Homo sapiens: one gene and its partners. The protein of the gene in region 3 purifies or fractionates together with the protein of the main gene of each other region. This does not show direct contact. Each region holds a gene or a part of one and is shown on either strand. Other genes may lie near its edges.

Region 1 (3,500 bases), on a different chromosome or scaffold from region 3:
CTTTCTCCAATAGCAAACTTTCACTCTCCATCAAAGAATGAATCTCCTTCCCCTCTGCTATGTTTCTCTCTACATTTCCAGCTAGGACTAAAGACTTTGGTTCTTCAGCCAGCTTTACTTCTTCAGAAGAGTAACTTTTACTTGATAAGGTCTCTGTATTACCACTGGAAGTATCAAGAGCAGATACTGCTTCTTGTGATGACAAATGAGATTCTTCAGCAGAATGCGGCAGGACCTGCTTTCTCACTTCACATGTATGGTCCTTACTGGACACAGCAGCCTTGAGCTGCCCTGGCCTCAGCTCATTGCTGCTAGAGGAATCCAGCTGCACAGATCCTGCTATTCTCTGTTCGTGTTGACTAGCCACATTTTCTGGCTTTCCCAACATCCAGTTTTCATCCTTTGGAGAAATAAAGAATTCTTCCATTTTTGTTTCTTTGACATCCGCAGGCTTGGTTGTCATAAATGATTTTGATTGTTCCAAAGGCAAATTCTCTCTCATAAGTGAAAACTGCTTAATACCCAGATCTTGTTTATCTTCAGAAGAGGTGCTTACATCAGGTAATTTAACAGTTTGATCTGAATGAAGTGCTTTTTCTGTCTTTTTTTGTTCTACAAGGAGGTCAGAAGGAGCAATCTTTGATGGTTCTGTTATACTCTGGAGTACCTGGGATGAATTTGGGTGGCCTGTTTCTTCACTTAGCTTATCTAAAATATCTCCCATGACTTGTGCCTTCAAATTTCCAGTTGGTGGTAATGGGCCTATTTCTTGATTTCCTCCCTTTTTAAAGTCGGCTGGATGGCTAACCTCCTCTGATAATCCTTTTAAAGAAAAAGTAAATGGCTGAAATTCTTCTGGGTTGCCTCCTTCAGCTACAGAGGCAGGTGGTTCTTTCGACTCTAGGCTGATGATCTTGGGAGAGAAAGGTTTAATTTCTTCATTCTGAGATTCCTCCCTAAGCAATGATGAAAGCTCTGAAATTGCAGGCATCGTAGAAGATGCACAAAGCTCTCTATTTTCTTCTTTTCCTTCTCTGCTCCTAAGCTCAGCTGGGCCTTTTTCTAAAACAGAATCCTCTGTTTCAGTTATGGGAGACTTTGCTTGTTTTGTACCTATGGATCCACTTTGTCTACCTAAATCACTAGAAAATTCTGACCCAGCATTTGGTAATTCCAACGGTTGGTGTGGCTTGTCTTTCTTCTCAGGTTCCAAAGACAGCTCTGCCAAAGCAACATCTTGTTTTTCTGATGGGAAGTCTCCCTGAGCTGTAGAAGATACCTCCACTGCCGGTTTGTTCTTATCATCACTGAGGAGCAGTAATGTTGGGGCTAAACCTGATGCTAAATTTTCCAACTCAGGAGATGAACTTGCTGTTTCCTCATCTTTGCCTTTTGGGATTATATGTTTGGATGCAGGTGACACATTTTGTGATGAAGGAAGTTCAGTTTCTTTCTTCTTTATCTCACCCCATAGGCTGAGTGGAAGCTCATGTTCAGGCTCTAACACCTCTGAGGTAGACATCAAGCTCTTCTTCTGTGATGAAACCAAACGTTCAGAGTCACAGACTGTAGAAAATAAAAGATCTTGTTTGTCTTCTACCCTTGCTTCCTCAGATTTATCTGAATGCTGAGAAGATGATGTTTTGATTACTGGCAACCCAGCTTTAACTTCTTTGGCTTCTACTTCTGACAAAACAGAATGCTCTGCTATAGAGGAGACACTTGGAAGTGAATCAAATTTAATTTCCTTCTCTGCTTCTGACCAAGCTAAATGTTTGGATGAAGTTTCAATGGGAGAAGCACCTTTAATTGCCACCTTGTCTTCTTCTGCAAGAACTGAATGTTCATCTGCAGATGTTACCAGTGGTGGCAAACCACTTCCTAATTCACCCTTTCCTACTTTTGTTAAGACTGGACGATCTACAGGAGTGATAAGAGATGAATCTGTTGGGATTTCTTCTTTTACTGCTCTGGTTAAGTTTGAATCAAGCTTAGTTACAGATGCTGTAGTTGTTGAGGAACTGGGTTCAATTTCTTTTTTAATTTCTTCTGACAAAGCTGAAAATGCTAGTGCAGGTGGACCATGTTCAACTTGCTTTTCCACTCCTGAGGAAGCTGAATGAAGCACTATAGGTGTAGTTGTTATTTTGGAATCATGTTTCATCTCCATTTTCACTGCTGATAAAGCCTCAGGTCCAGATAAAGATGTTTCCTTTAGAGGTGAATATGGTTTTATTACTTCAGGCTCATTCTTGGACAACTTTCTCTGTTCTAGTTCAGAAGTCACATTTAGAACTAATTTGGGCTTGACACCCTTCTTTGGCTCATCTACCATGTCAGGCAAAACTGAATATTTCATCTCAGACTCTGGAACATTTGGAGGCTGAGGCTCCATTTTTTGATCCTGTGATACATGTGCTGTAGCTTCTTGAGAATCAGGCACAATTTCTTCCTTTCTGACTTTTGACAAAGCCATCTGTTCATCTGCAGCTTTTAGAGTGAGTGCTGCTGTGGGTTCCTGTTCTTTCTTGATTGCAGGGACTGAATCAGGTAAAACTGAATGTGGAGATGCAGGTTTGGTTTCTTCCTTTACTATAGATGATTGTGCAGGTAAAGCAGCAGGTATTGCAGCTACTGATGAACTTGCCTCCCTTTCTCCCTTCTCCACTTCACTGGTTAAATGTGAAGGAATCAAGTCTTCAGACTCAGGCTCTAAATATGCTTGAGTTTTCTGCTTCTGTGCCAAAATGAGATATTCAGATACAGATGTTGAGGTTGTTGGAATCTCTGGCTTAATTTCTGCTTTCTCTGATTTATCTGTTGAAGGCGGCAGACTTAAGTCTTCAAGCGGAGACATCAAAGGGAAAGTTTCAGCTTTTTGCTTCTGTGATGAACTGAACTGCTCAGATACAGGTGTAGCAGCTGTGGATCCAATGTCTTCCTCATCTGCTTCTGAAAAGCAGGAATAACCTGAAGCAGACACTGCAGTTAATAGTGAATCAGGCTCAAGTTCATTTTTCTCTGTTTCTGAGATTCTAAAGGGAGGGATTGAAACTTGTGATGCTGAGTCTGGAGAGAACAGTTCCGCTTCTTCAGTGTCTTCATCTGACAAAATAGTGTGCTCAGATGGTGATGTTAAACATATTGGAGAATCGCACTCAAATTCTCTTTTCTCTGCTTCCTGGGTTGCATACGGTGGAAATGAGAATTCTGACACAAATGCAGAATCTGGAGAAAAAGGTCCAATGTCTTCTTGATCTTCTTCTGATAAATTCATGGGTGAGGATGCACCTTTTAGATTTAGAGATCTATGGACAATTTCTTCCTCCTGTGCCTCCGGTGTTGCATATGGTGGTACTGAAAATTCAGAAGCAGATGTAGAAGAGGGTGTGTATCGTTCCAACTCGACTGCCTCTTCGTCTGATAGAACAACATATTCAGATGGGGTGGCTGAAAGTGGTGGGGCCTGGCATTCAGAAGTCATCTCGGTTGTGTGTGGT
Region 2 (3,500 bases), on a different chromosome or scaffold from region 3:
ACATGCCAATGGCTTCCAGACCTTCACCAGGCAGCAGAATCACTCATGGAACTTTGAAAACTACGACTCCCAGACTTCACTTCAAACTTACTGAACCAGAATTAGTGCAAGGCCTGCGAATATAAATTATTAACAAACTCCCAGGTGATTCCAATAAACTCAGGGTCGGACAGATTAGGAACTCCTGCCCCAGGAGACTACCTTACTACACAAAGAAACATTAAATGATGTTGTTTCAAAACCCAAAAGGGGTTATATGCAGGTCACCAAATACGCTACTACAGAGCCTTTTCTAAAGGTGATCTAAGAACTAAGGGAAACAGTTACAACACCCATTCTGCGACCACCAAGAGCAGTCTCAAGGGATAACAAATTGATCACCTGGAGAGCCCTCCCTTGGCATATTCCAGTAAAACTGACCCAGGTCCAAATCCTGCGAGTCCCTAGTCTTGCAGGAAAGCTTATGTGAGAACTTGAAAGGAATAATTCATGGTTTGGGTAGCGAGCCCTTCTCAGGATAACTCCTCCCCTCTGTTGCTATACCAGCATGACATTTTTACATGTAGGCAGTGTTCCTAAGAACATCTGCAGCAGATGGGTGGTGTGCCAAACCACAAGACTGCATCAATACACTCCCTTCAAAACATATGGCTGGTTGCCAATATATCATATTGATTTTCCTAATAGACTGCACTTAAACTTATCATTTCGCCCACAGTCTGTTGGGTCAAATCTAAATGACCAGATTCAATCACTCTGATGACATTTCAGGATTTGGAAAGGGAGGAGCAAACATAGCAAAGAACTTATCATAGCCTTGAGACAGTGCTATCACTTCCACATCAATCCAAACCTAGCCACAGCCAGGTCTGTAACCCTGCCAGGGCTGCCATGTTCTTTCAGGACAGGATGCCTTTGCAGCAGCTATTCCCTCTGCTTAGACTGTTCTCTCCCTTGTTGCTTGTCAAAGCCCTAGTTGTCCTACCTAATCAGCATCTTTCCAATGGTTTCCCCCAACCTCCCCAACATGAAGATGCACACAACACCCTCCCAGCAGCATTGTATGCTCCTCCTCCTTGCTCTCAGTACACCCTACACAGATCCTTTCACAAGACTCACTACCTCATTTTTCTAGACAGAAGCCCAAATAATGAACTCTAGCTCTCTGTTTCTCTATGATCTTGCACAAAGAAGGGTCTCAACCTCTCAAACTCTTGGTCTTCTCATCTACAAAACAGGGATTATAATTGTACTTCATAGGGTTGTTGAAGAATACATGGGATTATGCACAGGAAGCACTTAACACAATGCCTGGTGTGGCAGATCCCCACTGAAGAGTAGCTATTATTTATATTTGTTGAATAAGTGATCAGAGAGACGAGGGTCAAAGCCTATAGAAGGCCTCAAATCTGGAAAGGGAGAGATAGGTGAGCACACCAAGGGAACTTCACCAGGACTCACGCGAGGCAAGCGTTGGCTCTGGCTTCCATTACAAGTGGTGTTTCAGAGTACACGGTCAGAGAGAAATCTGAGTTGTGTGAGTGCTGACTAACCTCTTATGCTTCACAGCTCCTGCCAACAGCTTCGCCTGGGAGAACTTGTTCTTGGTTTCTATAGGCTTCACAGTCAGTTTCTTTTCCACTTCCTTCTTGTTCTCTTGAGAAATTCCAACCTTCTTGAGGTTATTGTGAGTTACCAGTTAAGGGTCAAACTAAGCAAAAGGGAAGACAACAAATATAACCCACTAGCCCTTCGGCTGTGCGATGTAATGTCTGGCCTACTTATTTAAATAAATGCCCCACCCTTCTTTATTCTGCCAGTCAAATCCAGCCAATTCAAAGATAAATGAAAGAGACCATGGAGGAAGACAGCATATAAAGCCCAAAATAATACAGATAAGCAACCTTTTCCTCTGATTCTCAATGAAAATCTGAGCATAGCCACAAAACCCACTATTACCAAGGACATGGCCAATATCATGCTTGATGAGGAAAACAGATCTTAAGGAATATAAAGAAAACAGAAAAAAAAATGTGGCTTCCCTGAAAACATGCTTCCCCCTTCAAGGGTTAAATCAAATTTTGCAGAATGTTGTTCTGACTATCAGTGGCAATTAATCTTAGACATCACGAAGACTAACTCCTGCTCCACTGGTGCAAGGAAACATCAGAATCACCCCAAGGCTCATTAAACATGTCAAGTCCCTCCCTGCCCCAAACCTACTGAATGAGACCTCTAGAGGCCCGGGAGTTTGTTTTAAACACTCTCTGAAGGTGATTTTACACTTGATCTTAGCCAAAAGGCCAAGAAACAATCAAAGGTGATTTTAATGAGAAATCCTGTGCATATATACAAGAACTGAAAAGCTATTTTTAAAAGCATGACCAGTTCGCTTGTAACATCAGTTTTTCGTTCTTGATGCCAATCTCTGGCTCTCAACTTTTTACTCTTTTGAAGTGAAGAAAGGCCCCATATTTTTGTCGGGGAGGTCACTTTCACTTGTTCCCTCCACCAGCCCTCCCTCCTCTCCCTCCACTTCTCCCTCCGTTTTATGCTCTCTCTTGAAACGTCTTAGACAACAGATAAGTATTCTGACACAGTGCAAGTCCTTATTTAAGATGCACTAGTGCCTGGAACAATAGTGACATCTAGTGCCCAGGAAATCTAAGAAGCATGAATTATCAGCCCAAAAAGGTGGGTGGAAGTAGAGGATGTATGGTTAAGGTTATTTATCTACGTGTCTTTGAACAATGGAGAAAATCCTAAGATTTTCCAGAAATCCTAAGATTCTAATTCTAATCACTCTCCAGGCAACTAACTCTGTTCTTATGGGCACAAGTTACCTTAAATATTTGCAGTATGCAATGGAAATTAGATATAATGCTTAGTACTATTATGAGTTTAATGAATTTAATGTTTTTAGGGTCATCATGGAAATAGATAATGTTAATACTCATTTTTATTTAAAAAAAAATAGATTGGCCAGGCACAGTGGCTCATGCCTGTAATCCTAGCACTTTGGGAGGCCGAGGTGGGCAGATCAACTGAGGTCGGGAGTTCAAGACCAGCCTGACCAGCATGGAGAAACCCTGTCTCTACTAAAAAGACAAAAAATTAGCTGGGTGTGGTGGCACATTCCTGTAATCCCAGCTAGTCGGGAGGCTGAGCCAGGAGAATCGCTTGAACCCGGGAGGCAGAGATTGTGGTGAGCTGAGATCGTGCCACCGCACTCCAGCCTGGGTAACAAGAGCGAAACTCTGTCTCAAAAAAAAAAAAAAAAAAAAAAAAAAGATTTCATCTTTCTAGGAGAGAATGCCAAAAAAAAATTAGCATGTTGTGATTTTTTATCTGCAACTCCATCATTAGGAGACAGAAGTTCTCAAAACTCTCAATATTAAATATTAAAAAAAAACAAAAATGGAAAAAAAACACAACAAAAGCATGTATATATTTATACATTATTTATACCACGACATAGACAAAACCCAACATTTAACTTT
Region 3 (5,336 bases):
ACACAGTACCACCATATATAGTTTAAGGACACAGACATGTCTATAGAAAATTGATTTAGAAGCCGGAGTCAGAAGCAGTGAACTCGGTCCACATGTAGGGATAGGGTTAAAGCTGAAGAGAGCCAGAGACAGATGAGACGCAGAGTGGAACATCACTTACGCAAATCACACACAGCACCACGGCCAGCATGCGATTTTGAGGGTACAAATACATCTAAGTGAACACATCAGAACACATGTTAAGTGTGCTTGAGCAGCTGTCCATGGTTGAGAGAAGGAAGTTGGGAGACACGAAGGGAGTAAAATAAAACGAGAAAGGCTTCATGTGAGGGAAGGACTGGGAAGGACTTCACGGCACACTAAGGACAGGGAAACATGAGGGACTCAACGCCATTTACTGGAGGGTTCACCCTCTTCCCACTCTATATGCCTTCCCAGATAATCTCATCCTCTCCTGGGGCTTCAGCTGATGGCTCCGGAGATATTCCCGGGGTCTGAGTCTCCCTTTAGACTTCACTCCTGCACTTCAGACGTAGATGGCCAGCTGCCTCCCAGATGACTTGGGCAACAAGTCCAAGACGGAGTCTTGCTTTGTCACCCAGGCTGGAATGCAGTGGCGAGAGCTCGGCTCACTGCAACCTCCACCTCCCGGGTTCAAGCAATTTTCCTGCCTCAGCAGGGATTACAGGTGCCCACCACTGCTTCGGCTAATTTTTGTTATTTTCAGTAGAGACAGAGTTTCACTATGTTGGCCAGGCTGGTCTCGAACTGCTGACCTCGAGATCCATCTGCCTTGGCCTCCCAAAGTGCTGGGATTAAGGCGTGAACCACCGTGCCCGGCCTGGGCAACTGATATTCATGTCTGAAGTGCATGCCTAGCACGCCCGCTAGGATCAGCTGCCCACTGTCCTTGGTGCTGAACTCATACCCACAGCGCTTCCCTTTTGTGCTCCGCTGTCCCTGGTGCTGAACCCACATCCCTAGCACTTCCCTTTTGTGTCCCGCTGCCTGCTGTTCTTGGTGCTGAACACACACCTTAGTGCCTCCCTTTTGTGCCCAGCTGCCTGCTGTCCCTAGTGCTGAACCCATACCCCTAGTGCTCCCTCTGTGTCCAGCTGCTCAATGCCCTTAGTGTTCAATCTCACCCCAGAACTTCCTCATATGTTCCGCTGTCCACCGGCTTTGGTGCTGAATGTTTAAACCAGCACTGGTAAGACCTGGTGGTTTACACAGAGGTGAAGGCACTGATCTGGCAGTGTGGACACTGCATAGGTGGTGCTACCAGTGCTGAGGCAGGGCCTGGGCCTATCCTGCTCAGATTGCCTGCATGTTTGTGATGAATGAGTCATAGTTTCCCACACACAATGAGCTTTTTTTTTTTTTTTTTTTTGAGACGGAGTCTCGCTCTGTCGCCCAGGCTGGAGTGCAGTGGTGCAATCTTGGCTCACTGCAAGCTCCCACTCCCAGGTTCACGCCATTCTCCTGCCTCAGCCTCCCAAGTAGCTGGGACTACAGGCGCCCGCCACCATGCCTGGCTAATTTTTTGTATTTTTAGTAGAGACGGGGTTTCACTGTGTTAGTCAGGATGGTCTCGATCTCCTGACCTCGTGATCCGCCCGCCTCTGCCTCCCAAAGTGCTGGGATTACAGGCGTGAGCCACCGCGCCCGGCCACAATGAGCATTTTCTCTGAGCCAGCCCCTGTGCTAAGTGCTGTGTGCACCTGACTTCCCTGAACTCTTTGCAGTCCCATAAGGTAGTAGCTAGTAGGAGACCATCTCATGGAGCAGGACACTGAGGCTCGCAGACGTTAACACCCCACAGTGGTGGTGCCAGAGTCTGAGCCCAGGCAGTGTGGCTCCGGAACACCTGCCTCGCCTGCTGTGTGGACACTGCAGCACATGCCTGTGCGGCTCAGAGGACTTGGGCTCTGCTGGATGCCACCTCCCCTTCCCTCCTGCTCCCAGTTGGGCTCTGGGCTTCTGTCCACCTGCAGGGGTTCTGCTGACCACCTGCAGGGGTTCTGCTGACCCCTAGACTCACTTCTGTTTTTGCTTCATGATGTCCTCAGTGTTGGGAAGGCAATTTGTCCATGGCAGAAACCCGTAGAGCCACTTCAGCATGCAGTAGCCCAGGCTCTGGAGGTCGCTGCGGCGGGAGGGCCCTGGGGAAGGAGGAGTAAAGGTGGCAGCTCAAGTCTGGACGCTCCACTCACTGGTGGGTCCACCCCCCTTCCTTCCCCTCTCTCTCACTGACTCAACCACACACTCATACACCCAGCCTTCCAGCCATATGGGCTGTCTCCTCCGCTCATTCACTTTCATGAGTAGGCAGAAGCTGACTCATTCTCTCTCTCACTCAACCATTCTCTCAGCCCCTTTTACCAGGTCACCCTCATCCACTCCTCTTTCATTCATGCACTCATTCAATCAAGCCTCAGCACCCGTGTGCCAGGCCCAGCTCACTTCTGAAAACCCAGACCAGGATCTCGTCGGGTCCCAGCCCGTGACAGCCTAGTGGGGAGACAGCTATAGCGTGCGACTACCTGAGTGACAAAGGACACAGAACACACGGGAGCCCAGAAGGATGGGTACCAAACCCAGCCTCAGTGGGGGAGGGCGGGGGAGACTCTGACAGTTTATTTTTCTTATGCTTCCTGAGCATAAGACAACGCTTAATTTAGACAACGCTTTGTGTAAGCACTCGACAAGCACTACTTGTCCGTGCTGGCCTTCCACCACCCGATGCTGGAGGCAGGGGTGCCATCCCTGTACTGGGGGAGCTCAGTCTGATGGGAGGATGTGGCAGGCATGTGGACGGCCATGATATAAAGGGATGTGAGAAAGAGGGGCTCAAGAAATCTGCCCTGGGCCCTCTTCCTAGTCTGTACACTTTCCCTGGATGATCCCATCCTCTCCCAGGGCTTCGGCTGATAACTTCTGAGATACTGCAGAGCCTCTGCCCAGATCTCCCTCCCACACTCCAGATGTGGTGGCCAACCACCTCCTCAACAGCCCCTCCTGGATGACTCCTAGGCAACTCCCATCTTCCAAGTCTACAACAGATCCTGAACCCCAACCTCTGGAACTCAGGCTCCCCAGTGCCCAGCCTCCCACTATGCTTAGTGCTGAACCGCTACCCCACCCACCTCCCTTGCGGTCGGGACGCTGTCTGTGGTTCCAATCCCTGTCCTGGCGCCCTTAGTGCCTCTCCTGTCTGGCCACCTGCTGTCTCTGGCTGTGAACTCCTAGAGCTGCCCTTGTATAAGAAGCATCTCTCTGCGGTCCCAAACCCATCCCTGGCCTCGTACCGCATCCCTTGTGCAGGTCCATGCTAATGAACTCAAGGTCCCCCTCGTGAGGGCTCCTGCTGCCTTCCACGTAGGCCACGTGTTTGCCACTTGGGCAATAGCGGAAGGCGAAGCCATAGCCTGCCAAAGTCACCTGTGGACACAGGGAAAAGCCATACAGATTGGAGGTTAGGAGCGTAGAAGTCAGAGATTTCCATCGTGGGTGCAAGTGACAACAAACATTCTACCAAAGATGGCATTTTTCACTTACAAAACTAAGGCATGCTCATAGTAAAAATGATGTGAAGTAAAAAGAACCCAAACCAGCCATCCATATTTCCTCCCAGCCCCTAAAACCCATCGCCCAGAAATAACCACTAGTAACAGTTTCGTATGCATCATTCCAAAATTTTTTTTTTTTTTTAAATAACCAGGTAAACATATGTGGATGGGGAGGGGGCTCTTGTTTTCCACAGAGGCCTCACACCAGACCTCCTGTTGGGCACCGGCACTTTACACTTTAATAGTGGTTCTGGGCATTAACTCTGGGGCCAGATGGCCTGGGTTCAAATGCCAACTCAGCCCGCTGGTGGCGGTACAACCTTGGGCAAGCTATACCAGTTCTCTCTGCTATGATTTCTCCATTTGTAAAATGATGATAATAATAGTCCCCACCTCAAAGGGTTCTTATAAGGCTTAACTGAGTTTAAAACAAAAGTTAAATGCTTTCTGCCTGATACATAAAGTTAACCAAATCTTCTTTCAAAAATATCTACTTATTTATTTTGAGATGGGGTTTCACTCTGTCACCCAGGCTGGAGTGCAGTGGCGCGATCACGGCTCACTGCAGCCTCCTAGGCTCCAGTGATCCTCCCACCTCAGCCTCCCGAGTAGCTGGGACTACAGGCATGCACCACCATGCCCAGCCGATTTTTTGTAAAGATGGGGTTTTGCCCTGTTGCCCAGGCTGGTCTTGAACCCCTGGGTTCAAGTGATCCTCCTGCCTTGGCCACTGTGCCCAGTCCATGTCTTCTTTTCAATGGCTGCATCTTATTCCACCATATGGATAGTGGACAACTGTTGGTTTTGTCTATGTAAGACCTATATACACTTCCCCGGCTCCCTGTTTTTCTGTTTACAGTTTGTGGTGTTCATTAAAAAAATAATTTTTTTTTTTTAAGTTTTGAGACAGGGTCTCACTGGGTCACGCAGGTTGGAGTGCAGTGGTATGATCATGGCTCACTGCAGTCTCCATCTCCTGGGCTCAGGTGATCCTTCTACCTCAGCCTCCTGAGTAGCTGGAACCACATGTGTATGCCACTACACCTGGATAGGTTATTATTTTTTATTTTGTACAGATGAGGTTCCCTATGTTTCCCAGGCTGGTCTCGAACTCCTGGGCTCAAGCGATCCGATCCTTCCACTTTGGCCTCCTAAACTGCTGGAATTACAGGTGTGAGCCACTGGGCCTGGCCATGATGGTCATTTTTATGTGGCAACTTGACTGGGCCATGGGGTGCCCAGACATTTGGCCAAACCCTATTCTGGGAGTGTCTATGAGGGTGTTCTGGATGAGATGAACATTGGGGTTTGTAGACTGAGCAAGGCAGATTATTCTCCTTAATGTGGGTGGGTCTCATTCAATCAACTCAAGATGTGAATAGAATAAAAAGCTAAGTAACCAGAAGCTCCTCCTCCCTGACTGCTTGAGCTAGAACATTGGTCTTTTCCTGCCTTTGGACTTGAACTGAAACAACCCCTCTTCTTGGGTCTCAGGCCTGCTGGCCTTTGGATTGGAACTTACATCATTGGCTCTCCTAGGTCTCCAGATTGCAAACTGAAGAATCTCAGGACTGCTTAGCTTCCATTATCAATAAGCCAATTCCTTATAATAAATCTCTACACACACACACACACGCACACACACACACACCCTGCCAGTTCTGTTTCTCTGAAGATTCCTAATGCTTAGTTCCAGGATTTTCATCTGGGATTGCTTTTCCCCAGTTCTCAGTCCACGCAGTTCAGGTCTGTTTCTGCCAGGGCTGC
Region 4 (3,500 bases), on a different chromosome or scaffold from region 3:
AGCTAGTAAAAAATCAAAATAAAAACTCAGAGCTATTTAAATTCTCTATCCCTTTCCTAGACACCCATCTACTCAAGGAATATGAGATAAAAGATACTGAGTAGCACTTCTGAGAGCCTCTCTGGTTCATTCTGAATAGAACTTATCTGATTAACCCAAAGATGTCACTGCCAACCCAGACTTTATACAAGTATAAACCAGAGTTCTCCTCCAAACTACTTAGAACGAGGGTTTGCCTCCTCAAATTCTGGAATAAAAACCTTGACTTCTGACTTATCAAGAAGAATCCAACCATTAACTCATGGCCATTCAGAGTTGCTGCCTCCCTGTGAAGGGAAGAGACAACTAAAATGCTCAAGAGCTCATTGCAAGCAGCAGAAATGCAACTCTGAGGCCGGGCGCAGTGGCTCACACCTGTAACCCCAGCACTTTGGGAGGCCGAGGCGGGCGGTTCACAGGGTCAGGAGATGGACACCACCCTGGCTAACATGGTGAAACCCCGTCTCTACTAAAAATACAAAAAATTAGCCAGCTGTGGTGGCGGGCACCTGTAGTCCCAGCTACTTGGGAGGCTGAGGCAGGAGAATGGCGTGAACCCAGGAGGCAGAGCTTGCCGTGAGTGGAGATCGCGCCACTGCACTCCAGCCTGGGACAAAGCAAGACTCCATCTCAAAAAAAAAGAAATGCAACTCTGATGTGTCCCAGGAGTCGCCCAAAGGAAAACTTAAGAACCAGTACTCAAGGCACCACTATTAAGATCCTGGCAACGCAAGTACAGGAATCAGGAGGGAATTGAGGGCCCTTTACAGGACTTGCCATGCATATTTTGCCACTAACAAATAAGAGCAAACATGACAATCTTTTGCCTTTCTTCATGGGGACAATACACTAAGGGAATCTGATCATTTAAAAACAAGAGGCGGGGCACGGTGGCTCATGCCTTAATCCCAGCACTTTGGGAGGCCAAGGCGGGTAGATCATGAGCTTAGGAGTTCGAGACCAGCCTGCAATATGGTGAAATGCTGTCTCTACTAAAAATACAAAATTTAGCCGGGCATGGTGGCAGGCGCCTGTAGTCCCAGCTACTTGGGAGGCTGAGGAAGGAGAATCGCTTGAACCTGGGAGGTGGAGGTTGCAGTGAGCCGAGATCGTACCACTGCACTCCAGCCTGGGCAACACAGCAAGACTCTGTCTCAAAAAATAATAATAATAAATAAAATATTTTTAAAAATAAAAACTACAAAAAAAGCTTAAAAAAAGAAAAATTAGCTATAAATCTAAATAAAACATAATTCATGGCCAAGTAATAAAGTCATAATATAGTCAATGAAGATTATAACTTATAATCTCCAAAACATTACTTCTCTCTTTACTCAGGACTTTTAAAAAAAAAAAAAACCTCTATCCCTCACAGTGCCTAGCACTAAACAAACACCCAGTGTGTATGGGACTACTTAATTGAAGGAATTTCATTTCAGTTCCTTTTGCACATTTAATCTGCAGGAAAAGGGATTGTTAATGGAAATTCCTGGATACCAAGACAGGCTGTTAACTTTAGTGTTAAAGCCGCTCCTTGCCAAACAGTTGAAGTCTAAAGCTACAATTTCTATTTATCATAAAACTCAAAATATTTGAGCTTTATTCTGAGTACAAAATTTAAATGATGACCCTATGCCCATTCCAAGCAACTGTATTTACCTTAGCCATGACTTCTGGATCTGGTTCTTCCACAGGGTCAGCCCATTCAACTGTAACTACATTTCCCCACACTTTTACTTTTCCACTCATCAGCCGGCGTCTGGCTTGTGCTGCTGACTTGTGATCCTCATATTCAAGGAAGCAGAACCCCCGATTCTTCTTTTTGTCATCGGGTTGATGATAGAGAATAACGTCCACCAAACCCTCTGTTAAACCAACAGCCAGATATATAAGCCAAAAGCATCCACCACACATCTAGCGATTAGGCAGACCTAAATCCACTTGACGATGAGCAAAATATAAGTGAAGCAGCCTCAACATGAGTCACTAATTTTGTAGACAATTAGATCAACATAATTAGATATGGGGTTTGGGACAGTATTTGATGTTCCTTTTTAATTTTAGGGGTTCTGAAGGTACAGCCATATACAACAAATCTACTATATTCTGACATTTAACATGCTACAATGTTTTAGAGCGTTTGATATAACATGACTTTATTAAAGCACTAACAAGGATCTTAAAAACAAAATTAGTAATATAAACCCAAGAGAACTAACTTTTGACAACTAATCATGGCCAAAAATCTTCCTTGAAGCTAACTTAAAAGTTACTATTTTTACCAAGAATGGAAGTGATCACTAAATATTAGTGTTCCTCTGGTCTTAGTCCTTTGCCCTTATCTCTCCGTATGTGTTCTTTCTAAATAATGTCAGCTAGCCCTACTTTTAAATGTTACCTATACCCTTATAAATACTTAGATTTTTTTCCTACCCCAGACTTCTCTAAGCTCTAGATGTGCCTACGTTCTTACCCGATGTATCCTCTTTGATGTCTTAGACATTGCAAATTTAACTTTTCCAAAACTGAACCACCATGGCCAAAATCTGCCTTCCCTAGACTTCCTATCTAATAAACAGTGCCATCCACCTGGTTCTGAAGCCAGAAATTGGTTAGCCATTCTTGATTTCTTCCTTCATCTCTCCTATCCAATTCCAAACTCATTTACTTCTTTCTATCTCCACTGCTATTACCCTAGTCTAATCCTGTATCTGTACTAGTATGACAGCTTCAACTAATTTATCAGCTTCCACTCACACCCCTTCTCTCCAAGCCCCTATCCACAGAGCGCTAGGAATAATATCCCATAAACAAGAAATAGGTGTTATTTCCTGCTTAAAACCTTTAAATACCTTCTCATTATATATACAATAAAAACCCAACTCCTTACATGGCCTACAGAAGCCCTGCCTACTTCATTTCATACAACTCTACTCCTAATTCTACCTTTTAATAATACTGGCCTCCTCAGTTACTGTAATATACTGACTTCTTTCTTGCCTTGGAACCTTGGCACGTGTTGCTGTCTTGGAATGCACTTCCTTTTGCTCTTTGTATGCTACAACCTCTTCATCCTTCAGGTGCTGGTTGACATGTCATCTTATCAGAAAAGTCTTCCAAAACCATGGAAACAGGGATAGTAGCTATTCTCTAGCTAAATATCCTGTATTTCCTGCTTCAGTGTCTTATCACAATGTCTAAATATTCCTTTAATTTTTATTTTTTATATTCTTGGTCTTATCTCCTTTCTCAGGATATAGGATCTATGAAAGCAGAGAATATGTCTCTTAGCCATCAGTGTATCCCAGGCACATAGCACAATGCCAGCACTTAACAGGAACTTTAATAAACACCTGCTGAAAGAATGAATAAATGATCATGAAGCCAGAAGGAGCTATAGATAATAAAGTGATGAGGTCAAAGAACTGTGCCAGCAGTTGACAACACAATACTTGACAACA

Evidence for each region.
Region 1: the proteins of VRK3 (region 3) and CMYA5 purify together in Homo sapiens (affinity purification with mass spectrometry, with the first as the bait; one large-scale study listed by BioGRID). This does not show direct contact.
Region 2: the proteins of VRK3 (region 3) and PSME3IP1 purify together in Homo sapiens (affinity purification with mass spectrometry; one large-scale study listed by BioGRID and IntAct). This does not show direct contact.
Region 4: the proteins of VRK3 (region 3) and HNRNPR purify together in Homo sapiens (affinity purification with mass spectrometry, with the first as the bait; one large-scale study listed by BioGRID). This does not show direct contact.

Annotation. Positions count from the first base shown.
Region 1 is NC_000005.10:79,731,336-79,734,835, reverse strand, and holds part of CMYA5 (cardiomyopathy-associated protein 5), read right to left. Parts: coding exon 1-3,500. UniProt on the Homo sapiens protein: May serve as an anchoring protein that mediates the subcellular compartmentation of protein kinase A (PKA) via binding to PRKAR2A. May function as a repressor of calcineurin-mediated transcriptional activity.
Region 2 is NC_000016.10:57,165,540-57,169,039, forward strand, and holds part of PSME3IP1 (PSME3-interacting protein), read right to left. Parts: intron 1,688-3,500; coding exon 1,554-1,687; intron 1-1,553. UniProt on the Homo sapiens protein: Promotes the association of the proteasome activator complex subunit PSME3 with the 20S proteasome and regulates its activity.
Region 3 is NC_000019.10:49,986,331-49,991,666, forward strand, and holds part of VRK3 (serine/threonine-protein kinase VRK3), read right to left. Parts: intron 3,442-5,336; coding exon 3,309-3,441; intron 2,163-3,308; coding exon 2,042-2,162; intron 604-2,041; coding exon of another isoform or gene 507-603; exon of another isoform or gene 1-506. UniProt on the Homo sapiens protein: Plays a role in the regulation of the cell cycle by phosphorylating the nuclear envelope protein barrier-to-autointegration factor/BAF that is required for disassembly and reassembly, respectively, of the nuclear envelope during mitosis.
Region 4 is NC_000001.11:23,316,785-23,320,284, forward strand, and holds part of HNRNPR (heterogeneous nuclear ribonucleoprotein R), read right to left. Parts: intron 1,914-3,500; coding exon of another isoform or gene 1,905-1,913; coding exon 1,699-1,904; intron 1-1,698. UniProt on the Homo sapiens protein: Component of ribonucleosomes, which are complexes of at least 20 other different heterogeneous nuclear ribonucleoproteins (hnRNP). hnRNP play an important role in processing of precursor mRNA in the nucleus.